7 linked regions of the Homo sapiens genome follow. The protein of the gene in region 6 purifies or fractionates together with the protein of the main gene of each other region. This does not show direct contact. Each region holds a gene or a part of one and is shown on either strand. Other genes may lie near its edges. The genes, in order: GNS, DHX29, MAP4, DYNC1I2, SMS, GSPT1 and SLK.

Evidence for each region.
Region 1: the proteins of GSPT1 (region 6) and GNS fractionate together in Homo sapiens (co-fractionation; one large-scale study listed by BioGRID). This does not show direct contact.
Region 2: the proteins of GSPT1 (region 6) and DHX29 purify together in Homo sapiens (affinity purification with mass spectrometry; one large-scale study listed by BioGRID and IntAct). This does not show direct contact.
Region 3: the proteins of GSPT1 (region 6) and MAP4 fractionate together in Homo sapiens (co-fractionation; one large-scale study listed by BioGRID). This does not show direct contact.
Region 4: the proteins of GSPT1 (region 6) and DYNC1I2 fractionate together in Homo sapiens (co-fractionation; one large-scale study listed by BioGRID). This does not show direct contact.
Region 5: the proteins of GSPT1 (region 6) and SMS fractionate together in Homo sapiens (co-fractionation; one large-scale study listed by BioGRID). This does not show direct contact.
Region 7: the proteins of GSPT1 (region 6) and SLK fractionate together in Homo sapiens (co-fractionation; one large-scale study listed by BioGRID). This does not show direct contact.

What each region holds. Positions count from the first base shown.
Region 1 is NC_000012.12:64,714,407-64,717,906, forward strand, and holds part of GNS (N-acetylglucosamine-6-sulfatase precursor), read right to left. Parts: intron 2,414-3,500; coding exon 2,335-2,413; 3' UTR 1-2,334. UniProt on the Homo sapiens protein: Hydrolyzes 6-sulfate groups in N-acetyl-d-glucosaminide units of heparin sulfate and keratan sulfate.
Region 2 is NC_000005.10:55,259,195-55,262,694, forward strand, and holds part of DHX29 (ATP-dependent RNA helicase DHX29), read right to left. Parts: coding exon 3,436-3,500; exon of another isoform or gene 3,356-3,435; intron 2,306-3,355; coding exon 2,174-2,305; intron 751-2,173; coding exon 654-750; intron 1-653. UniProt on the Homo sapiens protein: ATP-binding RNA helicase involved in translation initiation. Part of the 43S pre-initiation complex that is required for efficient initiation on mRNAs of higher eukaryotes with structured 5'-UTRs by promoting efficient NTPase-dependent 48S complex formation.
Region 3 is NC_000003.12:48,006,417-48,009,916, forward strand, and holds part of MAP4 (microtubule-associated protein 4), read right to left. Parts: intron 1-3,500. UniProt on the Homo sapiens protein: Non-neuronal microtubule-associated protein. Promotes microtubule assembly.
Region 4 is NC_000002.12:171,686,152-171,690,268, reverse strand, and holds the start of DYNC1I2 (cytoplasmic dynein 1 intermediate chain 2), read right to left. Parts: upstream 2,801-4,117; 5' UTR 2,642-2,800; intron 2,515-2,641; exon of another isoform or gene 2,396-2,514; intron 123-2,395; 5' UTR 114-122; coding exon 6-113; intron 1-5. UniProt on the Homo sapiens protein: Acts as one of several non-catalytic accessory components of the cytoplasmic dynein 1 complex that are thought to be involved in linking dynein to cargos and to adapter proteins that regulate dynein function.
Region 5 is NC_000023.11:21,971,709-21,975,208, reverse strand, and holds part of SMS (spermine synthase), read right to left. Parts: intron 3,313-3,500; coding exon 3,219-3,312; intron 2,703-3,218; coding exon 2,638-2,702; intron 1-2,637. UniProt on the Homo sapiens protein: Catalyzes the production of spermine from spermidine and decarboxylated S-adenosylmethionine (dcSAM).
Region 6 is NC_000016.10:11,867,628-11,870,956, reverse strand, and holds the end of GSPT1 (eukaryotic peptide chain release factor GTP-binding subunit ERF3A), read left to right. Parts: 3' UTR 1-2,829; downstream 2,830-3,329. UniProt on the Homo sapiens protein: GTPase component of the eRF1-eRF3-GTP ternary complex, a ternary complex that mediates translation termination in response to the termination codons UAA, UAG and UGA.
Region 7 is NC_000010.11:104,026,140-104,029,733, reverse strand, and holds the end of SLK (STE20-like serine/threonine-protein kinase), read right to left. Parts: 3' UTR 501-3,594; downstream 1-500. UniProt on the Homo sapiens protein: Mediates apoptosis and actin stress fiber dissolution.

The sequences.
Region 1 (3,500 bases), on a different chromosome or scaffold from region 6:
TATGAAAACATCAGTGCATTGTGTAGTCTGTTACGCTATAAACTGAGGTCTCTTTATGAAAGATTATTTTAGCACAAATTCAGAATGAAGCCAGTCCAAGAAAAAAAGAATTGGAAGCTATTTGAAGGTTAGATAGGAAATATACCAAAAATAGAAGAGCGTAGAGAGGGCTGCACCACATCCTACCACGCAAGCACACCCACTGAACTGAGTAAGAGTGGCGTGGCTGAGGTGCCGTCAGCAGCTGACTATGTCACTCTTATGAGTTCTGCTCAGGAACAAGCATAAAACTGAATAATATGACATCACAGTCCAAGACCTGGTAAGAGTTGGTTTCTTTTTATTTGGAAATAACTATGGTCAACTTTCATTAATGTGGAAGTTGACTGATAATGTTAAGAGTCAAAGTGAAAAAGAAAGCCGATACCCATATTCAACAGTGCTTTCAGTTACAACATTTTTTGAATTTCCTTCTCTAAAACATTCACAGCAGAGGTGTCCATTTCACTTGCCTGTTTCACCTCTAGATACCACCACAGTTGCTGGGGTCATGTGAGGTAAAGGAATATATCCAATTGACTGTTAGCCCAACATGACTATCTGCAATTCTGATAGAAAAGCTACTTTCAGCCATGTCTTACAAAGTGCTTAAAGCTGGACAGAAGACTTTAAATAAAGCTAAAATCGCTTATTGCCTGAGTTGAACAAGTTACAAACCACAGCTCTTCCTCCTCCCCTGCTGTCTCACCACCAATTAGCCTTCTTGTGAGGACAACATTAGAAATGGAACTGGTTTTTGAGCCAAGAAACATAAAAATTTAGGTGTTCTTAGCCAAGCGTGGTGGCTCATGCCTGTAATCCCAGCACTCTGGGAGGCCGAGGTGGGTGGATCACAAGGTCAGGAGTTCAAGACCAGCCTGGCCAACATGGTGAAACTCTGTCTCTACTAAAAATACAAAAAATTAGCTGGGCGTGGTGGTGCGTGCCTATAATCCCAGCTACTCAGGAGGCGGAGGCAGGAGAATCGCTTGAACCCAGGAGGCGAAGGTTGCAGTGAGCTGAGATCATGCCATTGCACTCCAGCCTGGGTGACATAGTGAGACTCTGTCCCCACTTCTCAAAAATAAAAACATTTAGGTGTTCTCAACAGTGAAGAAACCTGAATAGATTTGATTTTGACAGGGGAATACTGATAATCATACAAGACTCCAAAACTCAGGAAGAACCCATCTAAAAGGGGAGAAGGTAGGGTAAAGTAGTTGATACTTTGCATCAACTGTAAGAAAATTTTCCACCTTAAAACAAATGAAGAGAATGACAGAAAAATGCAGATAGAGCCAATGACTTCATACATGGAACTTAAATTCAAGCTCCCTGCTGGACAGGCACTTCTTTCCTTTATCCCTGGTACAGCCCTTCCACTTGTCTGTTCAAGAGCCCTGTCTTCAGAAGGCCCTCGGAAGAGACAACCTTCACCAACTCTTGGCAGTTCTTCACTGCTGATGTTCCTAAGCCACTTCATTTTTCAGATCTCAGAGGGGAGTCTCAAGAGAAGGGACCTTGCCTTAATCCTTCCAGTGTTAACTGGCACTCCCTGTGGTTGGCAGCCACTGGAAAGTAGATGGCTATCACCTTCAAGAGCTACCTGGAATTGGCCTTTATCACAAGCTTACTGCTCTATTTCAGTGCAGCACCAGCCTAGAATTCACAAAAACATGAACAGAGCTTGGGTGACATGTTTTGAATTTGCAACCTTACCACACTGTGATGAACATCATAAAAAATGTATCTCTACTTATCAATCAACAATGGTACTTGTTCTTACTTGGATGATTCAGCTCTGATGGTTACTCTTCAAGCCATGTGATGTTAGTATTTTTGATAGTGAAGTGCTCAATCTGAAATGCTACACAGGTCCTTTGACTTTAGGTCAAGCTTACATATCAAAAGGTGTGTCTGTGTGTTTGTGTGTGTCCTAAAGTACTGCCATTTATCTGAATGGGTTTACAAATTCAGTCTTTAACCACAAGAGGAATAATCAAGAACTGTGGCCCCAGGATAAAAAGAATACAGTGAGAACAAAGACCTCAGGAGTGTCCTTGTCAGCTAAAGGAAGAGACCAGAGACAGCCACTCCTGACACATGGGCAGAGTTCACAGTTTAACACATTGCACGAGGAAGTCAGCTGACTGGGTTGCTTTTTCAAACAGGACTTAAAGCCAGCCCAGAAACTCTTCCAGGTGTGGTCTTGAAGACTAGCTACAGACACCTACTACAATCACTTCATCAGAAAGAGGCGTGCAGGGATCCATCTGCAGAGGCTGTGTGAGGTCGCTACAGAAGATGTTTGGAAAATCTTCGAGTCCTGACACTGCCGCGATTGCTGAACATGAGACGGGGGTCAAACCTGTATCTGGGGAGGAAAAACCAAATGTAACATTAGCTCTCACTAGCTTCTCACTCAGAATATTATTCAGTGGAAAGGATAGCAGGAAGGGGTGTAAAAGAAACAAATCACCAGAAGGGACTCTAGTGAGAAAGTCTATGGTACAAAACATGAGCCCTCGACAGTTCCGAACATTTCTATCACCAGTCAGCACACACAAAGTCACACAGTGCAAGTCAAGAGGAGAAAAACAAGTAGGTTAGTCTTGAAAGGTGTCAGAAGGCAGCAAGATTTGAGATTTTTTTCTTTTGAGGGAGTAGGGGTGGATCAACTGTTACATTATTACAGTGCTTGTGTTCAAGTCACCCTGATTTTATTTAACAATGGCTCCAAACCACAAGAGTAGTGGTGCTGCCAATTCAGAAATGCCAAAGAGAAGCCATAAAGTGCTTCCTTTAAGTGAAAAAGTGAACGCTCTTGACTTAATAAGGAAAGAAAAAAATCATACAGCAAGACTGCTAAGACCTACAAGAGCCTCACCATAAACATGAGTCATTTTTGGTGGGGGCGCTGGCAGGGGGACAGAGTCAGTCTGTCGCCCAGGCTGGAGTGCAGTGGCACAATTTCAGCTCACTGCAACCTCCACCTCTCCGGCTCAAGTGATTCTCCTGTCTTAAGCCTCCAGAGTAGCTGGGAACACTGGCGTGCGCCACCACACCTGGCTAATTTTTTTTTTTTTTTTTTTTTTTTGTAGAGACAAGAGTTTCACCATGTTGCCCAGGCTGGTCTAGAACTCCTGGGCTCATGTGATCTGCCCGCCTTGGTCTCCCGAAGTGCTGGGATTACAAATGTGAGCCACCGCGCCCAGCCAGGAATGAATCTTCTATCTGTGAAATCATGAAGAAGGAAAAACGAATTCTAGTTTTGCTGCCACACCTTAAACTGCAAAAGTTAGGGCCACAGTGCATGACAAAAGCTTAGTTAAGATGGAAAAGGCATAAAATTTGTGGGTAGAAGACATGAACAGAAACATCTTCCAACTGATGGCAACTGGGCCTGGCACTATCCTTGGGGCTTCACGCATCCACTGTGGGTTCTGGAATAGATCCTCTGT
Region 2 (3,500 bases), on a different chromosome or scaffold from region 6:
AATAAGTAACAAAGTTTACTATGCTCAGTTTTATTAACCTTTTTTTCTATGAAATGGCTAGAAGTTTAGAAATGAAGTTTAAAAGAGACAGGAGTAAACTAAACCTTAAGAGGATAATTAGGCTGTGAATAATCACTAATTGAGTTTGATGGAATTCAGCATAAAGTAGATGGGATTTTTTACGACTTCAGTGTGCTTTAGTATACTCCAATGTTACAAAAAAAAATTTCTAGAATATTTCAGATTTTCTCTTACAAAGTTTCTTTTTTTCTTTTTTGAGATGGAGTTTCGCTCTTGTCGCCCAGGCTGGAGTGCAATCATGTGATCTTGGCGCTCACTGCAACCTACGCCTCTCAGGTTCAAGTGATTCTTGTGCCTCAGACTCCCGAGTAGCTGGGATTACAGGTGCCCGCCACCATGCCCAGCTAATTTTGTATTTTTAGTAGAGACAGGGTTTCACCATGTTGGCCAGGCTGGTCTCGAACTCCTGACCTCAGGTGATCTGCCTACCTTGGCCTCCCAGAAGTGCTGGGATTATGGGCGTGAGCCACCGTGCCTGGCCTCTTAGAAAGTTTTTCCACACATTAATACATAGGTATGTGTACACATACACATATGTGTATATGGTCTTTCACTTATAAGCAAACACTTACTTTCAAGGGACATCTTTGGATTTTCAAGCTTTTTTCTTAAAACTGAATCAATGAGAACTCTCAGCTGCTTGAAAATGACAGCTATCTTTACAGGGGCCTGTTAAGAGGAGTTGAAAAAATGGACAAAGTCAATCCAGGGCAGTGTGAATGTGTTTAAGTAAATCAAGGCAAGCCTATATTACAATCTGCCTTAGCACATCTTGCTTTTAATGGAAAACACAATGGGAAAAATACAAATTATTTCTGCTAGCTAGGCATGCAAACCTGTCAATTTCCTTATTAAATCTGGTAACTCTTCCCAAAATAAGGCAACTATTACTCCAATAATTGTTTTCTTCTCTATTTATATCAACTCTGTGGAAGTTAAGACTACAGTTTTGGGGAGGGAAATTTTTTTTTTTTGAGATGGAGTCTCTCTCTGTTGCCCAGGCTGGAGTGCAGTGGCGCAATCTTGCCTCACTGCAACCTTCGCCTCCCAGGTTCAAGCGATTCTCCTGCCTCAGCCTCCGGAGTAGCTGGGATTACAGGTGCCTGCCACCATGCCTGGCTAATTTTTTGTATTTTCAGTAGAGACAGGGTTTCACCATGTTGGTCAGGCTGGTCTCGAACTCCTGACCTCATGATCCACCTGCCTCGGCCTCCCAAAGTGCTGGGATTACAGGCATGAGCCATGGCACCCGGCTTTATTGAGATATAAAAATTACCATAAAAATTCACTCATTTTCACTAATTTCAATAGCTTTTAGTAAATTTATAGAATTGTGCAACCATCACAATCCAGTTATAAAACATTTCCACCACCCCAATTTCTTTGCACAAACTGCATATAATTGTAAAGCTGCACTTAAAATTCACCTCTCCAGTCCTAGACAAACAGCTATCATAGAATAACCTAACAATGTAATAGGTTTGCTTAGTTTAAGCTGGTCAATCTTGATGGGAGTACAGAGAAACAGATAAACTTATTGCCAGAAATAAGCATAGGTTGGTCTAATTTTTCCAGAGAAGAATTCAACAGTATGAATTATAAACTATAAATCTGTTTGGTCTTTTTTATTCCTTTTTATTCCACAATGTAGTGGAATGAGAATAAATTTGGGTATCAAATAGTCCTAGATTTGAATCTTGCTCTGTCAGTAACAATCCACGTAAATCCTGGGAAAATTATTTAATTTCTCACTGTGTTTGAGTGTCTCTATGTAAAAGAAACTATAGAAATTACCTAACAAGGTTGCTAGGATATTAATTTGGGAAAATCCACATAAAGTTAACTATTGAAGTACCCAACACATAGAAAGCTAGAATTGTTATTAATAATAAATAGAATTTGTAATAGCAATATAATTTGATTTCCAAATTTAACAGATTTAAAACCACAGAGGCAAGATAAAATAAGGAATTCTACTTAACTCATATTAAGAAGAAATTATGCAAACTCCAATAAAATTTAAAAAATGTACCTCAATGGTACTGGAAGTTGAAAATTTTTAATAATCAATAAAATCAGTTGTACTATGTACCTGAAAATAGATCCAGCCATCAATAGAAAGAAGACGTTCTCGGTGCTGAACTTCTATATCACCACCAAAAAGTAAAACTGGAAAAGGGGTTATTAGGGTAGTTTCTCTCAAATACACTCTGGCATACCTTATCTACATGGGAAAAAGGGGGGAAAATAACTTCAAAATATAAAAATAGAAGGAGGTCATTTATCTTTTTCAAGTAAGCATTTTTCTACAATTTGTTATTCTACATTTTAAGCTCAGAGTATTTGTAAAGCTACATTTTCATTTTCTTATGTGCATAATTTATCAATTTTATAATAATTACTATTACCACCTGTGCATTAATGCTATGAAAAGGCATTTTAAATATTATTGCTAAGGCTGAGTTATATACTTTGAACATAAAGGAAACTAGGTACAAGCAATTTTATATGCTAATGATATTAAATAATTAATGTTAAAATTATGATTTTCAGTTGCTGGTTTCTAAACCAACATTCAGCTATGGGCATCAATCAGTAATCTCTCGTTTTACATTTAAGTTTGATAAATGTTGAGAGTTATTCAAGCCAGTGCTTGAAATTACGGATCTTTGTTATTTTAAAGGTCAAGAAACAAAATGGAGGCACTTTTTGTAAAGGGAGAAGAAATATGTTTCAATTCTTTATGTTCCCTTTTCTTCTCATACTGCCTTAAAAAATGTGTGAATGAGACAGGTAACAAAAACCCAAAATATAAAGAGAAAATGCCATCTTAACCTTTACCATATGTTAAAAAATAAGAAAATGGAGTGGTCATGCAGCTCCAATTCAAAAGGTTGTTTTCATTGTAATCTATAAATATTTGCTATTAAATTATCTTAGGTGATACTTGACCGAAACTGTTGCAAATCATCCACAGTTCTACTACACCATCCAATATTCCCCTTATTTGGAAATAGCACATACAACCTGTCTTTTATTCCCTTCTGAGGCAGCACCTTTTAATGAAATACTAAGGGGATTGATACATTATTAACCAACATCAATTTGCTATTACTGTCTTTATTCCAAGTAGAAAAGATGATGGGCAGAGTAGAAACCTTACTATTTGTTTTTGAAGAGAAAATAAGCATTCTTTTGTTTGAGAAGCTATGTGCATCTTGATTTCAAATATTAACAAAAATGAATAGCTCAATTTGAGAACCAAATAAAATACCTGTTAGGGCATCCTAACTTGTTATGAATGACTTGCAGAATAATGCTCTGAATACTGGAATTTAGGAATGAGTACTTCACCTTCTCCTGGTATAAGAGCCATCCATGAGTTTGCAAATCTCGATTTACTGAGGATGGGTGTACTT
Region 3 (3,500 bases), on a different chromosome or scaffold from region 6:
AAGTCAGGTAATTAATGAAGTTTTAGCTTAGGTCTGACTTACAGTGGGCCCAGTGGGTCCCTGGACTCATCCTGTGGTCATTACCCCAGTGCCAGAATGCATAATTGGCATAGACATACTTAGCAGCTGGCAAAACCCCCACACTGGCTCCCTGACTGCTAGGTTGAGGGCTATCATGGTGGGAAAGGCCAAATAGAAGCCCTTAGAGTTGCCTCTACCTAAAAAAATAGTAAATCAAAAACAATATCACATCCCTGGAAGGTATGCAGAGATCAGTGCCACCATCAAGGACTTGAAAGATGCAGAAGTGGTGATTCCCACCACATCCCCATTAACTCTCTCATTTGGCCTGTGCAGAAGACAGATGGATCCTGGAGAATGATAGTGGATTATCATAAGCTTAACCAAGTGGTGACTCCAATTGCTGCTGCTGTTACCAGATGTGGTTTCATTGCTTGAGCAAATTAACACATCTCCTGGTACCTGCTATGCAGCCACTGACTCTGCAAATGCCTTTTTCTCTATTCCTGTCCATAAGGCCCATCAGAAGCAATCTGCCTTCAGCTGGCAAGGCCAGCAATATACCTTTACTGTCCTACCTCAGGGGTATATCAACTCTCCGGCTTTGTGTCATAATCTTATTTGGAGAGATCTTGATCGCTTTTCGCTTCCGCAAGATATCACACTGGTCCATTACATTGATGACATTATGCTGACTGGATCCAGTGATCAAGAAATAGCAAACACACTGGACTTATTGGTGTGACATTTGCATGCCAGAGGATGAGAAATAAATCCGACTAAAATTCAGGGACCTTCTGTCTCAGTAAAATTTCTAGGGATCTAGTGTTGTGGGACCTGTTGAGATATTCCCTTTAAGTTAAAGGATAAGTTGTTGTGTTTGGTCTCTCCCACAACCAAGAAAGAGGCACAATGCCTAGTGGGCATATTTGGATTTTGGAAGCAACACGTTCCTCATTTGGGTGTATTACTCCGGCCCATTTACTGAGTGACCTGAAAGGCTGCCAGTTTTGAGTGGGGTCCAGAACAGGAGAAGGCTCTGCAACAGGTCCAGGCTGCTGTGCAAGCTGCTCTGCCACCTGGGCCATATGACCCAGCAGATCCAATGGTGCTTAATGTGTCAGTGGCAGATGGGGATGTTGTTTGGAGTCTTTGGCAGGCTCCCATAGGTGAATCGCAATGGAGACTTCTAGGATTTTGGAGCAAGGCCCTGCCATCTTCTACAGATAACTACTCTCCTTTTTTTTTTTTTTTGAGACGCAGTGTCACTCTGTTGCCAAACTGGAGTGCAGTGGTGCGATCTCGGCTCAATGCAACCTCCACCTCCCAGGTTCAAGCGATTCTCCTGCCTCAGCCTCCCAAGTAGCTGGGAATACAGGTGCGTGCCACCACATCCAGCTAATTTTTGTATTTTTAGTAAAGATGGGGTTTCACCATGTTGGCCAGGATGGTCTCGATCTCTTGACCTTGTGATCCGCCCACCTCAGCCTCCCAAAGTGCTGATTACAGCTAACTACTCTCCTTTTGAGAGTCAGCTCTTGGCCTGTTACTGGGCTTTAGTGGAAATTGAATGTTTGACTATGGGTCATCAAGTCACCATGCGACCTGAACTGCCCTGCCTATCATGAGCTGGGTGCTTTCAGACCCATCTAGCCATACAGTGGATTGTGCACAGCAGCATTCCATCATCAAATGGAAGTGGTATATACGTGATCGGGCTCAAGCACGTCCTGAAGGCACAAGTAAATTACATGAGGAAGTGGCTCAAATGCCCATGGCCTCCACTCCTGCCACCCTGCCTTCTCTCTCCCAGCCTGCACTGATGGCCTCATGGGGAGTTCCCTATGATCAGCTGACAGAGGAAAAGAAGATTAGGGCCTGCTTCACAGACGGTTCTGCATCATATGCAGACAACACCCGAAAGTGGAGAGCTGCAGCACTACAACCCCTTTCTAGGACATCCCTGAAGGACAACAATGAAGGGAAATCTTCCCAGTGGGCAGAACTTCGAGCAGTGCACCTGGTTGTGCACTTTGAATGGAAGGAGAAATGGCCAGATGTGTGATTATATACTCATTCATGGGCTGTAGCCAATGGTTTGGCTGGTCAGGGACTTGGAAGGAGCATGATTGGAAACTTGGTGACAAATTTGGGGAAGAGGTATGTGGATGGACCTCTCTGAGTGGTCAAAGACAAGATATTTGTATCCCATGTGAGTGCTCACCAACAAGTGACCTCAGCGGAGGAGGGGTTTAATAATCTAGTGGATAGGATGACCCATTTTGTGGACACCACTCAGCCTCTTTCCCCTGCCATCGCCCATGGCCAACAAAGTGGCCATGGTGGCAGGGATGGAAGTAATGCTTGGGCTCAGCAACATGGACTTCCACTCACCAAGGCTGACCTGGCTACGGCCACTGCTGAGTGCCTAATTTGCCAGCAGCAGAGACCGACACCAAGCCCTCAGTATGTCACCATTCCTTGGGTGATCAGCCAGCTACCTGGTGGCGGATTGATTATATTGGACCTCTTCCATCATGGAAAGGGCAGAGGATTGTCCTCACTCAAATAGACACTTACTCTGGATATGGGTTCGCCTATCCTGTATGCAATGCTTCTACCAAGACTACCATTTGTGGAATGTTTTTTTGGTTTGTTGTTGTTGTTGTTGTTGTTGTTTTGAGAAGGGGTCTCACTCTGTTGCCCAGGCTGGAGTGCAGTGGCACAATCTTGGCTCATTGCAACATCCGCCTCCCGGGTTCAAGTGATTCTCCTGCCTCCGCCTCCCAAGTAGCTAGGATTACAGGCACCCGCCACCACACCCAGCTAATTTTTGTATTTTCAGTAGAGACAGGGTTTCACCATGTTGGCCAGGCTGGTCTTGAACTCCTGACTTCAAGTGATCTGCCTGCCTCGGCCTCCCAAAGTGCTGGGATTACAGGCGTGAGCCACCGCACCCAGCTGACTCATGGAATGCCTTATCCACCATCATGGTATGCCACGCAGCATTGCCTCTGACCAAGGCACTCACTTTACAGCTAAAGAAGTGCGGCAGTAGGCTCATGCTCATGGAATTCACTGGTCTTACCATGCTCTCCATCATCCTAAAGCAGCTGGATTGACAGAACAGTGGAATGGCCTATTGAAGTCACAATTACAACGCCAACTAGGTGACAATACTTTGCAGAACTGTGGGAAAGTCCTCCAGAAGGCCGTGTATCCTCTGAATCAGCGTCCAATATAAGGTACTGTTTCTCCCATAGCCAGGATTCACAGGTCCAGGAATCGAGGGGTGGAACTGGAAGTGGCACCACTCACCATCACCCCTAGTGATCCACTAGCAAAATTTTTGCTTCCTCTCCTGCAACATTATGTTCTGCTGGCCTAGAGGTCTTAATTCCAGAGGGAAGAATGCTGCCACCAGGAGACACAACAATGATTCCATTAAACTGGAAGTTAAGATTGTCACCTGGACACTT
Region 4 (4,117 bases), on a different chromosome or scaffold from region 6:
CATACTTCTTTTTTTTTCCTTTCTTCTTCTTTTCTCTTCTTTTCCTCTCTGATTTGGGCCAGTCGCTGCTTCTTACGTTCCAACTCAGCCTTTAATTCACTTTTGTCTGACATGTTTGTGACCTTAGAAACATATAATCATTATGTTAGTAAAAGCAGCACAGTTGAAAAAACTAGTGTTCCAAGAAGAGAACTGTCCCGAAAGGCCATATAGTTCAATGCTATCTCAAAAAAGCACAAAAACCTTACTTTTAAAATAATGGGGCTGGGCAGTAGCTTACTTTGGGAGGCTAAAGTGGGAGAACTGCTTCAGGCCATGAGTTTGAGACCAGCCTGGGCAACAAAGCAAGACCCCATCTCTACAAAAAAAAAAAAAAAAAAAAAAAAGGCAAGAAAAATAAAAAATTAGGCGGCATGGTGGCATGTGCCTGTAGTCCCAACTACTTGGAAGGATTGCTGGAGCCCAGGAAGTCAAGGCTGCAGTGAGCCGTGATCATGCCACTGCACTCCAGCTTGGGCAACAGAGCGTCTCTAAAAAATAAACTTTTAAAAGATAAAATAAAGGAAGCATATATATTATTACTAAGACTTAAAAAATGTATAAACAAATATATATAATAAATATTACCTAGAGCTGAGCATAGTAGCTAGCCCATAGTAAGCACTTTAATGTTCGCATACACAAACTGAACACAATGTCTCAAAGTTTTTGATGACAATATATTAGGTACCCAAGATAAAGGTCAAAACTGGCTCTTAAAACAGAGGACATGGTTTGGCATTTAGAAGCTCTTAAGCTATATGACACAGATCAAAACTATTACCAATTCTATTGCATTCATAGAAACTTGATAAAAAACAATAGGTCAAACTGAACTTTCCTGTAAGTTCTAAAAGTGCTGTAGTAATACTAAAGCAAAACGCAGGAGTTACCATCATTAGCTATCAAATCATATGACTGTATTTCTCCACAATAACACCTTACGTATACCTCTGATGGCACTTTTAGTACAATTATTTGTGGACATACCTGAAATGTTCCCTATTAGATTGTAATGTACTTGAAATCAGGGACTGTTTTTTAGTTATTTTTGTTGCCTTCACAACATCCAGCAGAATGACCTTAACATTACAATTGACACTGGCTAATGAATAATGGATACGGTAGACACAATTACAATCTGAGCTTCAAAAACCAATTGCATAAACACTACTTCAGCTTGAGTTTTAGGAAGAAATAATGAATTAGGATTTTTTTTTTTTAAGTAGCCTAGCAGCTGAGCATAAGGCAGGAGCCAGGAACTCCTTACCTTCTCCACATGATTGACTTATTGCCTAATGATCAATCTCTTTCAATGTCTCTGTACAAGTGAAGTATTAAATGCTTTAGATCAAGAAAACTAGGAGAATAACCTCTGGAAAACTGTATTTCCAGAGGTTAGGGGAAATCTCTTAAAAAGCACAATTGTTAAATCTGAACAAAGGTAAGTCAGTCAAGAGGAGAAATTCACCTACTAAGAAGTGGATAAAGGAAATTTCAGCTACTAAACTCCATTAAGACTGGCAAGCGAATTGATAATTTTCAAGCATACGAAAAGGATGAAAAGTTGACATAGCAGACCTGAAATATATACACAATATCTTCCAAGATTTGTTTGAACAAACTAAAAGCAAGAGACCGTGTTTCTTATTCCACTCTTTCTACACCTCTAAACAGCTCCATACAAACGGCTGGTGAAGAGAACTTCCATACGTAACTGTATGCTACGCTAGGCACATTATATTTTGTTCAACGTCAACTGTAAAACAGATATACCAACACTAATTGATATTAAAATAAGCGCATTTTTAAAGCCCAACAACAAAGTCTTGACCAGCTGAACTACAGCTGACCAATCCTCTCATCCTCACAGAAGCCAGAGCCTTCCTCCATGACCGACATGTTCACGTTCTTAAAACTCAAGAGAAGAGAGTCTCTAGAGTTTTGTGCTAGAACCTCCGTGTTCGGGGGCTTTCCATCACACATAAGGTGAGGGGAGACACTATCAAGGCAAGTAGAGATGGCCTTAATTTGTAAAATGGGGCAAGGCGAAAACGAATCACTTTCTCCCCTGGGGTCACGGCCAAGAGGGCGCGGTCCACGGCAGGGCGTCCGGAAGAAGCCAGTGGGCGCCGGACAAGCCTCAAGGCTCCCCAGGCCGCCTCTGGAGGGTCGAGAAGGGAAAGGAGTGGACTCCTCTCGCCGGGCCGCAATGAGTCACCGCACCCAGGTCTCCCCGCCTTTCCTCCCCAAAGCTGGGCCGGGCGGGGATGTCAGCAGGAACTGCCAAGCCGCCCTTCGAGTTGCGACGTGGAACACAGGCAGGGAGGCCTTGAGGGAAGAACAGTCAACCCACCTGTCAGGTGACTGGATGGGGAAGAGTCCTCCCGCCTGCAACTTCCCGGTAACGTCCCTCGCCTAAGCCCCCAACACCAACTGTAGCCACCACCAGCTCCGCGGCTTTCCAAAGCACACAAAGAGGGATGGGCGGCGGCTGCTACGGCGAGAGCTTAGGGACAAATAGCCTCACCAGAACGAGGTCGCTCCCAGAAATAAAAGGTGGGGCCCTGCTGCGAGGAATTGTAGCCCCTCCGTGACTTACCTGTCGTAAAGCAGAAGCCGGTAGATAAAACAAAGAACCCAGTCAACCCAGGGGCCTTAAGTATTTCCGCTTTGCCAAAAACTGGAAAACTACGCCTAATATTCTCAGGCCAGGAATCCAACTTCCGCCCTCGCCTTACAAACTGACACGATCGAGAAGAACTACAAACCCCGGCAACAAGGAAAACCTGCGTGCGACGAGCAGTGCGTTCTGGGAATTGTGGTCGCTGGGCGTCGCAAGGTGTGCTGGGACATGTAGTGTGTCCCCTCCTTTAGATTTCCCACTCCAAGGCCTTCTTCCGTCGAGAAGCTTCTGTATAAAGTATTCTCGTCTGTTGATCCGTGCCCACAGTGTAGTATGTGTTATAGTGTAAGATCTTTGACCCAATATTGGCGGAATTTTAAGGTCTATTTTCCAGTGGTGAACCTGTGAATCACGCTGCTGCACATTTGGTGAAGACGTGAAGTAGACTGTTTAGGATGTAAAACATTATATATATATATGTACATACATATGTAAGTTTTAGGGAAAGAATGTCTTATATAGGCTTCATGTGGCATCTTAGGCAAAATCTAAATAAAAATATGTCAACTGACATAGCAAATAATTCTTTAGTATTTTGTTGCAGTGTGGTAGCATTTTGGTTTTCTCTCAAACAATTTTAGGAAATAAAGCATTTTGTATTATTGGACTCTCAAACCAAGCTAGAATGTTTTCCACAGTTAGATTTTTAACATACAAAGAAAACAAAAGTTACTGGAACATGAATTTACCTGCAATGTATACATTGACACACCTTTTTAAAGTTTAAATAATTTAAAGCATTATTTGGCAGGAGTTAAAGCTAACACCAAGGTAATATCTTTTCTATGTTCTAGAAAACTGATTGTTCTAGAAGTTCTAGATATTGCCCAAGTCTAGAATGAACCTTTATGATTCAAATTCCAAGTCCTTGGGCTTGTGGTCTTTTTCTTATCTTTCTCTGCCTTATCTGTGGTCTTTTGTGTAGAAAAAAATATTCTAAAAATAAATTTGAGAAAGAAAATCCTTGGCTTTCCACAGCTTTTCCCAATAACCTAACATTCAAAGAGCTTTATAGCTATGTTATTTTTTTACTTCTTTCCTAATAGTTTTCATGTATTAATTTGAAAAAAAATTATTATTGATTGCCTACCATGTGCCAGCAATGGTGATGGGTGTTGTGGTAACAGCTAAAATGGACCAGGCGCAGTGGCTCACACCTGTAATCCCAGCACTTTGGGAGGCCGAGGCAGGCAGATCACCTGAGCTCAGGACTTAGAGACCAGCCTGGGCAACATGGTGAAACCCCGTCTCTACAAAAAATAGAAAAATTAGCAGGGTGTGTGGCATGCGCCTGTAGTCCTAGCTAGTCACGAGGCTGAGGCAGGAGGATGGCTTGCGCCCAGGAGGCGGAGGTTATAGTGAGCTGAGATTACACAATTGCATTCCAGCCTG
Region 5 (3,500 bases), on a different chromosome or scaffold from region 6:
CTGTAGAGCACCCTACCAAACTCGTTTCAACCTTCACTGCTGAAAAATGAAACTGGACTACACCAATTCAGGTAGATTATAGCCCAGGCCTTAGGTATACTGTGTAAATTGCAAGAACCTTTTAAAATCAAAGTTAATTTATGTGACCTTGTTTTCTTGTTTTTTCACTTGAAAGTAGAAAACAAAAATAAATTCAAGTACATCCCATAGCTTCTTAGTCGAAAATTCAGACTTAACTTATCAAAGGGGAATAATTTCAGATAATGTTACTGGGTTATTTGTTAATGATTTAATCTCTAACATTTAACCTCTGATCTTTATTCTCCAGATTTAAAAAAAAAAAAAAAAAAAAGGATAGCAATCCTTGTCCTTTTGAGGCCAGTAACAAAGGGTTTACAACAAGGTATACCCAATTTCTAGCTGTCGTCAACCTTATTTCATGAAAAGATAATAAAAACTGTGACAAGCATAAGCAAGGTATTTTGAAGATCTAAAGCTTAACTCCACTCTTAGAAAACTCCTATACCAAAAAAGGAAAAGAACCAGACTTCTCATGAATGCTGAAGCCCATAAATGTATGCTGTTTACTCACTCCTAGAGGCAACTGATAAAAATCAGACCACATTTTGATGTGGACCAATTCATTATCATAAAGTTAAGACCCTTTCTGACAGTGGGGAACCTGTTCATTCCAAATGGGTGCAGATAAGGAAAACCCTGCCAACAGGAAAAGATGAAATGTCCAAAAAGTGGTATGGGTATATGGGTGTGGATGTGTTTTTAAAGGAAGGTGAAGGGTAAGAGACATGGCTGGGGACCCTAAACTGAGCTTGGGTGCTCCAAAAGAGCCTGAGTGCTCTAACAGATCTCAAAAAAATAGTTCTATACTGTGGCGTCTTCTTTTCACTTTCAGTTTCCTGCTTTCCTCTTTAACTACAGAAGGTTAAACAATTACCTAGTTATCTTACATCTGCTCTGGAGCTTTCTTGTGGGCTGATCAAACTTAGCATGCTGAGTAATTAAGTACTTAAACATCCTAACACTTGCCAATAAGGATTCCTTCTTCTGGAAAGTGCCATGAACTGGAGAAACCTGTATTTCCGTTGCTCAGCAATGAGGAAGTCCCTCTGTGTTGGTCTCTGCAACTGAGGTTAATTTTATGAGCAAGGGACAGGCCTTCTATGCCTTAAGGCCTGATGAGGATCCACCAAGGCAGGGCAAGAGTAAATTGTCCTGCATTTGCATGCTGTGTATCCAAAGCACTTCTTAATTCCCATGATGTACCAGACACTAGTTCCTTCCCACGATGTCCGAATTGCATTCTTTTAAAATCTGACACCACTGGCAAACACTTCGGCAGTGTCCGATAGAAATTTGGATGATGAAAATGTTCCGTAGTTGTACTGTCCCACATGGCAGACACTAACCACTAGCTATTGTGACTAAGGAACTGAATTGTGTATTTTAATTAACTTTAAATAGCCATGTGGGGCTAGTGCCCATCCCACTGGATAGGGAGAGCTTCATTTTCCTCATGATCACTTGAAAATAACCTGCCTATGGCAGCTTAAAGTTGGTGGCCTATCAATTCTTAGTATCTTGGAAAGTTTTCTTCTTTGAACGCCTTGAGGCAAATTTTCTTATCACCCCACCCTGTCGGAAGTCTCTTAAAATTGCTTAACTTCACTCTGGGGCCTAGAGCCTGAAGGAGAAAAAGTGACCTTTTCTCTTTCCTGGAAAGGTTGAAGTCAGGTATTTGTTTTGTTTTGTTTTGAGGCGAGTTTCACTCTGTTGCCCAGGATGGAGCGCAGTGGTGCGATCTCAGCTCACTGCAACCTCCGCTTCCCGGGTTCAAGCTATTCTCCTGCCTCAGCCTCCTGAGAAGCTGGGATTACAAGCACGTACCACCACGCCTGGCTACTTTTTCTATTTTTAGTAGAGACGGGGTTTCACCCATGTTGGTCAGGCTGGTCTCGAACTGAAGTCAGGAGTTTTCTAGCTCCCTTTGATGAGGTGGCAGCTCTACCTGGGTCTCCACTTTAGGCAGTTCCAACTCCTTGGAGTTGGTCCATATCCCCTTTCTGCCTTAGTTTCATTTTACCTAGCATTTGTGTGTGTGCATCCATGCACATGAATGTTCATACACTGTCTTGTTTTGGTGTGAGGGGCCCAGTAGTTCAGTTCACCATGTTGCCAGAAGGAGGTGCTGAGTTTGATCTTTTCCACATCTTAAGCAGACACTACTGGGGACCACACTGCCATTCTGAATTTTTTTTTTTTTTTTTTTTTTTTGAGACAGTCTCATTGTGTCACCCAGGCAGGAGTGCAGCGGTGCGATGATCTCAGCTCACTGCAACCTCTGCTTCCTGCCTCCTCGGTTCAGGCCATTCGCATGCGTCAGCCTTTCAAGTAGCTGGAATTACAGGCATGCACTACCACGTCCAGCTAATTTTTGTATTTTTAGTAGAGACGGTGTTTTGCCACATTGGCCAGGCTGGTCTCAAACTCCTGACTTCAAGTGATCCGCCTGCCTCGGCCTCCTAAATTGCTGGGATTACAGGTGTGAGCTACCGCGCCCAGCCAACTATGATTGTTTCAATCGATTAAATATAAAAGGACATTCAAGAGTGGACTTACCGTTTCACCCGCCCAGTACTGTCCTGACTCAATTCTTTCATTCTTTCCTCTACTTTGTTCAAAATCTACAATTAAAAGAAAAATCAATGGGCTTGTAGAATAAGCTGCATGGAAGAACTAAATTACAGACCCAACGACTGAGGCCATGTTGACAGAGCTGTGCAAGATTGACCTGTCCCTCCTCCTACCCTCTAGCAGCCTGTAGACGCCTGGCCCAATTCCACTCTCCCATACCAACTATCCCTTCATGTTGCTGACCTAACCTTAGCGTAAGTTAGCAACAAAGTAACACGGAAGAGGAAGGCTAAAGGGTACTGCAGCTATAAAATCCTGGTTAAAGGTTTTCTATTCCCTCCAGTGGAAAATAAGATTACTCATACTAAGGCAGTTAAAAGGGAACGCTGACACCCAGGTTCCTAAAAACAACTAAACAACTACTTCTATTCTAAAATCACTTATGTGGAGGGAGGAAAGTTTAAAATTAACTGGAAAGTAAGCAATGAAGAGAACATTATTTTAACACTAAGCTAAGCAGATACTATGATCCTTAAACACTGAGTAAATGAAAGTGAAAAACCGACACTGTCGATCTCTTCTTTGCCTTGCGCATCACCATCATAACTCTGAAGGTCCAGCAACACCAATCCATGTGGGTAAATTCTCAAATTGGCAAAGCTACAAAGGAAAATATAATTTTAAGCTTAAGAATTGTATCGGGGCATTAAAAAAAAAAGAGAGAGAGAGAGAGATGTCACCCAATTAAAAGACCACTGCTCTTTATTTCCCCAAAAGTATACAGTTAAGCTTTTTGCTTTCTTACTAGGGCTGCGTCTTGCGGGGAGAAACTACCAATCATTTGTGGA
Region 6 (3,329 bases):
ACATTTTTAAAAAATAAGTTATGTTTGCTACTAAAACATTTACACTGTTAGACTATTATGTGCATGTTGCCAAGACTCTTAAGTAACTTGGATATCAACTGTGAAGGGCCTACCTCTAAAAAGTAACAGGTCATACAAATACAAATGTAACTGTAAAAATTCCACTGGATTCTTGCATATTTGCAAGATTAGATTATTCAAAAGAAATTTCAGTGCTAAAATTAACCAGCAACATAAGTTCTATGGGCTTTGAAAATTGTTCTCATCTTTTTAAAGTTGATGCATTTTCAATCCTGCTTACACAGGCTGTTCATTTGGATAAGTAAATAAAATGTCTAAGGTGAACTTGGCATTATGTGGAGATGTTGGACCGTTATAGAGCAATACAAATTCCTATGCTGTCATTCTGTTTTCTGCAAATGCAAACGTGCTTATATGGTCAACAGTGCAAAAATAGGGTAGTTGGCTGCATATTTAGGGTATTACCTAAGCATTTGTTCTCTAACGTTGCTCTACTAGAATGATTTTTTTCTTGCATCTTTTCACATTAATGATGTTCTTTATATAACTTTCATGCGATTATTTAGTTTTTTAAATTAATAAAGTGAATTTAAGAAATATTGAAATAAACATCTAAGTAATTGCCATTTTAAACCCTTGTTTCTTACTGTGGGAGAGGGGGAAATACAGCACTCATTTCTTGTTTTTAATTTGCAGAAGTAAGTGAAAATCTATGTAAAATCAAACCAAAAGAGTTGGACTGAGTGTGTATTGTCTTGAGATTAAGTGACAAATAGTAAAGTGTTACTGAGTAATTAAGCCCATGTATTTTTTTTTTGTGAGTTGAAAATCTTTGAAATATGTGATAACCGAATGTCAAAAGTTCCTAAACTCTAACAGTGCAGGTTGTTCACTGTAACGAGGTAACTCATATTTGCTGGTTACATAAACTACAAGTACTGCTCTCACAATATGGGACTTTGAACTGTGATGTAGTTCAACAGTTGCCGGCATCCTCTCAGCTGATACGCTGCGAATATTTTGGGTTAGACTTGCAGCCAGATGCAGTTTTGCAACCCAAGAAAAAAGTTGAACCTATGATCAAAAACTGCTCCCAAGATGAACCTGGAAAAAAATCAGCTAAGCTCCCTTGGCGATCTGCAGGAACACTAGTAATGACTGGAATTACTCCGTGATCTTTGATGACTATTACACATAACAGCACTCTAGCACCTTTTCTTACTGGCATGGACTTCCTCATGGACTGCTACTTCATGGATGATAGCTTCATTGCTTTGGGTAGGGATTTAAGGTAGTCAAGGGGAAAATACGCAGTTTTATTACAGGTCTTAACATCAGGCAACTTTCAACTTTAAAACCCTTTGTGAAAAATGTGGTTATAGCACTATAGCTCTGATTTTAGGATGGTTAAATGTTATATTCATTGTTGGCTTACCTTATCAAACTGTGCCATTAATCCTTTCACAGACATAGGTAAGGAAGAGAACAACCAGTGGATTCAGGGGACAATTATCTATCTCCAAATAATAGGCTTTTATTTCTTGCAGCTAACTTTTTCAGTGATTCTAGCAGATGCCATCTAGTACATCCTTGATCTTGTTTCTTTCGTGAGAGATCTCGCCATGGCAGCATCTTGTTAAGTAAGTGTAATTGCACATGCACAAAAGACTTAACTAGCTTTACATTTAGCAGTCAGTTGGTTAGATTAGGTTTCATAGTAAATGAATAGGAATAGAAAGAATAGGAAGTGTTTTTATTTTCCAGTAGTAATTCCGTGGATTCCATTTGACCCAGTTTACTATCAGTTCAGTTCAGGTAGATTTGGTTCAACTTTTGGTGGTTTTTGGCTCTAGGATATTCTTGACTTTAATATCCTAGAACTTACTGAGTCTTCCCTTCAATAAATACACTTCTCACATACCTCTAATCCTATGCTTCCTTGAAACAATAATGCTAGCTGAGTTGTTTACTAAGGATTATTATAAGGGCCTGAAGGTGTGGGAGTGGAGATTAATTAAAACCTTTATGTTCTCCAATATAAGGGAAAAGCAGGTTGGTACTACTTCTGATTAGGCAGAAAACACCAGGATTCCTTAAGTGATCCTTGAAATGGTTATTGTTTTCTGCCTTGTCACATTTGCCACTGTGCCCTTTAAAACGATGTGGAAACCTCAGGTTTGTGGACAGCACAGGTGGAATGACATCTTGTGCTTCCTGAGGCTCCCCTCTACCAGGCACATTAGCTTAGTGCTTCAGATGTCAGCCCAAGTCCTTGTTACCTCCTTTTCCTGCTGCCCAGGGAAGAGTGTGTGTGCTGGAGCTGGAGCGCTTGCACTCTTCAGGTGACTATTCTCACCTCCATTTCCTCCACATGCATTAGGTGAAACTGAGGTCTAAGCCTCCTGCAAGGTCTACATTTTAAGGACTCACACATCAGGCTCTCAGAAATGTACACAGGTATTAGTTCTGTTTGTTCTAAAGGAAATGTGGGTATCTCTCAGGCCAGGACTTAGTGACTAGTTTTCGCTAGACAGCAGGTTAATACCTAGATCTCATTTAAAAAAAAAAAAAAAAAACAGGATTAAAGGGAACTGATCAGGTTTGTTGAGTTTTTTAGCCTAATTCCAAAGCATGGAAGAGTGCTCTAGGTAGGAAAGAAAGCTTTTTCTTACGATTTGTAGCTACCTACTGTGCCTGACTTGGTGCCTGTGTGAGGATTAAGCCCTTAGTCTGCTCTTGCAATTATTCAAATGACAAATTAAATTTGCTTTTGTAATAACAATAAAAGTTGTCATCTTCCCTTTTGAAGGATTTGTCGTTTGTAATTACCTGTGTTGTAACAAGCAAAAACCATGCCCTTTTTTGTACAATCCTTTTATTTTTGTATCAGGTACTGGAACCATCTACCAAAAGGTTTGTTGGATGGATCTAATAAGCTCTGTCACATAAGGGATTCACAAACGTCATCTGCTTGCATATGGCATGCAAGTCTTTTGTATAATGTATACGACAACCTTAGGAAACAAAAATAAGAACCCTATAGGAAGTTAGGGATGCTGAATAATAAATAACTAGATCACAGTTATGTGGTTTTATGTGAACAGTAGAGTTGGGGGAAACGTCAATTATTATTAGAACTATGAACCTCTACATTCAGGATTTTTAATAAAGATCAAGAGACCAAATAGTGCTTGCCCTTTTCATTCAATGTGCAAGGGCAAGAAGAAGTTAATGATAAAGGTAACATACACAGTGGCTACTTGAATGACAGCAGTTCATTCCTGTGTACTAAGTTCCTGTTTGAACTG
Region 7 (3,594 bases), on a different chromosome or scaffold from region 6:
ATAGTGCACAACGCTCCCAGATTAGAAAATGACACTCCATGCCTCCCTCCAGCTGGACACGTGCCGAGTGATGCTGCCTAGCGTCTACTGAATCTTGCATGAACGTTATCAATGACGAAGAGACTATTTTTGCAGAAGTGAGGTCATATGATTTGTGAAATGCTTGGTGAGAAAAATCATCCATCCCAAGAGGAAAAGAAATTAAAAACATACACATATATACATAGGCTGATAGAAATATTTTAAGCACCTCCCAAAGGAGGGGTTTGCATTCTGAAAGACAACCCCCAGCAAGTTATCACTAAAAACTACATTTGAGTGTGTGTGTGTTTGCGTGTATGCTGTGGACTACACACAGCTAGGAATACTAACTCTGGAAGGGTCAGAAGACCTGCGGGGACTGCAAGTTTTACAATATAACTAGGACCAACAACTGCAAAGTGTTCTCAGGCAGGACACTCCAGTTTCAAAGATTCTCAATAAAAGACTGCTTCCCAAAATTGATTAAGAAATAACTTTATTTTTCATGTGTCAATCCCATGATTGAAAAGACATGTTGCTCTCAAGTAGATAAGAGGCATAATCTTAAACAAAATTCTTTCTGAAAATTTAGCTTATGAACTCATTACACTGCAAACCAGAGAAGGAGCACAAAAAGCTGCAGCCCACATTGAAACCTGGCAAACACTCTCCGCCAAAATTAGTAGCAGGAATGTTAAAGCTTTATCAAAAACATGTCAGCAACGGAATAGCAACAATACAGCCATTAACTGTTGTGCCTTCAACTTAAGAAAAGCATTTAAAGAATCACCCCATTTCTTATAAAAATCATTTCTCAGAAAAGAATTGTTAATCAAAAGACTATTAGAACTGGAACTCTCTTCTTTCACTTCAGTTCTAGATTTTCTTTAATCAACAATATCTCTAGTTAATACTTGGACAGAATTTGGCTTCTCAGAAGAGTCTTTGTCATTTAAGCACAGTGTGGAATGGGAAAAAGTGTATAGTTACAAGGAAACTAGAAGAGTACAAAAAAATAGTCACTTCTGAAACTCGCTGATGCTCAAGAAATCAGAGACCCTTCATTAAGGTGGGTCTCATATGCCTGAGAGCTTTGTGCTTGAGGAAGTATGACTTAGAGGTAGCTCTGGTTCTGGTAATTTATATTTAATTATAATTTGCTGTATCCTGTCACAAGAGAGTTCTAATATTTTCAGCAAAGTAAAAGCATTCAACATTTTTTCCTTACCCACCCTATAGCTTCCCCATAGAAAAAGATAAGAAAAAGCTTAATGTGACTCCACATAGAATAGCAGCTAATTCAGCAATTCGCACTGTATGGTTGTTGACAGGACTAGGAAAGGCAGCCTAGTGCCCCAAGCTGTAGGAGCTGGATCTGCAGAAGTGTGCAGGTCTGCTGTGTTCACAGCACTCAGGGAAAGAGGGGAGGAGGTGGCTGATGAGGGTGCACGTTCGGAGAAGTCTGTATGTGTTTCATGGCATATTCTGCCACAGCAACAAAACAACCAAATCAGCAGTAGATTTGACTGTACCCTTCGATTTCAAAGAAGTCTGCGCCCCTCGCCCACTCGCCACCTACACTTCATGCAGGAAAGATAGATCACTATCATCTATTTGAATACAGGGCCTCAGAAGAGGTGGGCTGGTATGGGTACAAACAGCGTATTTTATAACAAAACACTTTTTGAAAAGATTTATATAACTTTAAGTATTAAAATGAATGCTTTACCTCTACATATGTATCACTGTACAGTCTTGCACCCACACGATTATGGTCATATTTGAAAGCGAACTCAAGCACAAACACTGAATCCAAAAGGCAGTTTTAAGGGAGATCCAACCTTACCCACAGCGCCAACCATTCCACTCTGAGCCTCTCTCCTTGAGTCAATAATCTGAATGTCAAGTTGAAAGGAACAGAAAGAATCAAATATTCAGACCAAATTAATCAGGCACCACACACTATTTAGCGCACAGGGTATCAATTAAATGATACTAGAAAAAAAATGTCTACTGCCTGAGGTATTCATTTTTTAAAAGTCAATAAACTGAAAATTTCAAAGGAGAAAGTGGTATGAAGACGTTCCTTCCCAATCCCTCTTCAAATAAATCATTAAATACACTGGGCAACATTATACTGTCATTTTTATCATAACAATATAAACAATTTTTATCATCATCCTGAATATTACTTTATAAAGATATATATTTTAAAAGGCTTTCAAAACATTTTTCAACCCAGCATTTGAGAATAAAGCATTAAGAGTTTTGTATACAGTAACACATTCATGTGATAAGTGTATGAATTTACAACCATACATAATATGTATATATGTATATATATTTATATAAAAAACAAACTTGGCCAGAAGTTAAGGCTACCTACGAAGTTGTCCAAGTAAATTATGCTTGTCAAAACAATTATAAAATTCAAATCACACATGCATTTTTAAATCATCTAAATCACTGACAAACAAGGTTCAGCATCCAAAGTTTTCAAATTAACTGCAAGAAAGTGCTACAGACATTTACATTTTCTAAATATGAATCAGTGTTCCCACAAAGTTACATTTAAATTTTTCACCAGCCTCAAAAGTAATATAACTGAAAACAAACTTTCACAATTTGGTACCTAGCACTCTTAAGAGAGAATAGGTTGAAAATGGCAGGCAGCAAGCATCATTCACAAATGTGCTGTCTCAGACAGCAAAGTACAGTTTATAATACTGTCTGACCTGACACGTGGTTGAAATTCTAAGCCTCATAAGGGACTAGGAGTGAACATTTCATTAATAATTACACACACCAGCAACCACATGATAAAGGCTTCAGGCTTTTCCCACTCAAATCAAAGTGAATGATTTAAACATGGAACAAAATAAAACCAAGACATAAGTAGCCTCATTTCAAAATAAGGAAAAGTAATTCCTGACGTGCCTAAATATTTAATTTAAACTTTTAAAAAAGTATTCTGAACTAATGCCTCTTTTAAGATTAATTTCTGAAGATATATTTATAAATATAACTCACAGCCTGCAGGCCTCTGACAGAGTTTTAAACAGAATTAGCTAAGATGGAGAGAAATCATTTAACCAGCTCAGGTATTATTTTAGAAAATAAACACAGATAGCTAAACCTATATTGCTTAAATTTCATGAGTTTTACATTTCCAGTTTGCAATCTAAAAGCTACCTCTTTTTTTCATCTTTCCAAACTTTGTACATGTATTTTAGGATGAAAATTTCTATCAAACGGTAAGAGAAGCAAAAATTCCAAAACAACCATGTTTTTAATTCTAAAGATGTTTTTGTCCCTGTTGATCAAAAAGAAAATCCTACTTACGACTTGACTGAAATTTAGTGTTTTAGGCACTATCTTAAGAAAATTAGCACCCTCAATTATTAGCTCATGCCAAAAGAGGTAATTCGTTTTGACAAATCACTGAAATAATTTTTCTCTTTTAAAAGAGGTTGTTCCTATTTAAAGAAAAAAATATATTCATTTACTGAGTCAACAGCATATTTGAGCAAATCATAGCTTTTTTATGAGAGCTGATCCACCAAAAGAAAATTA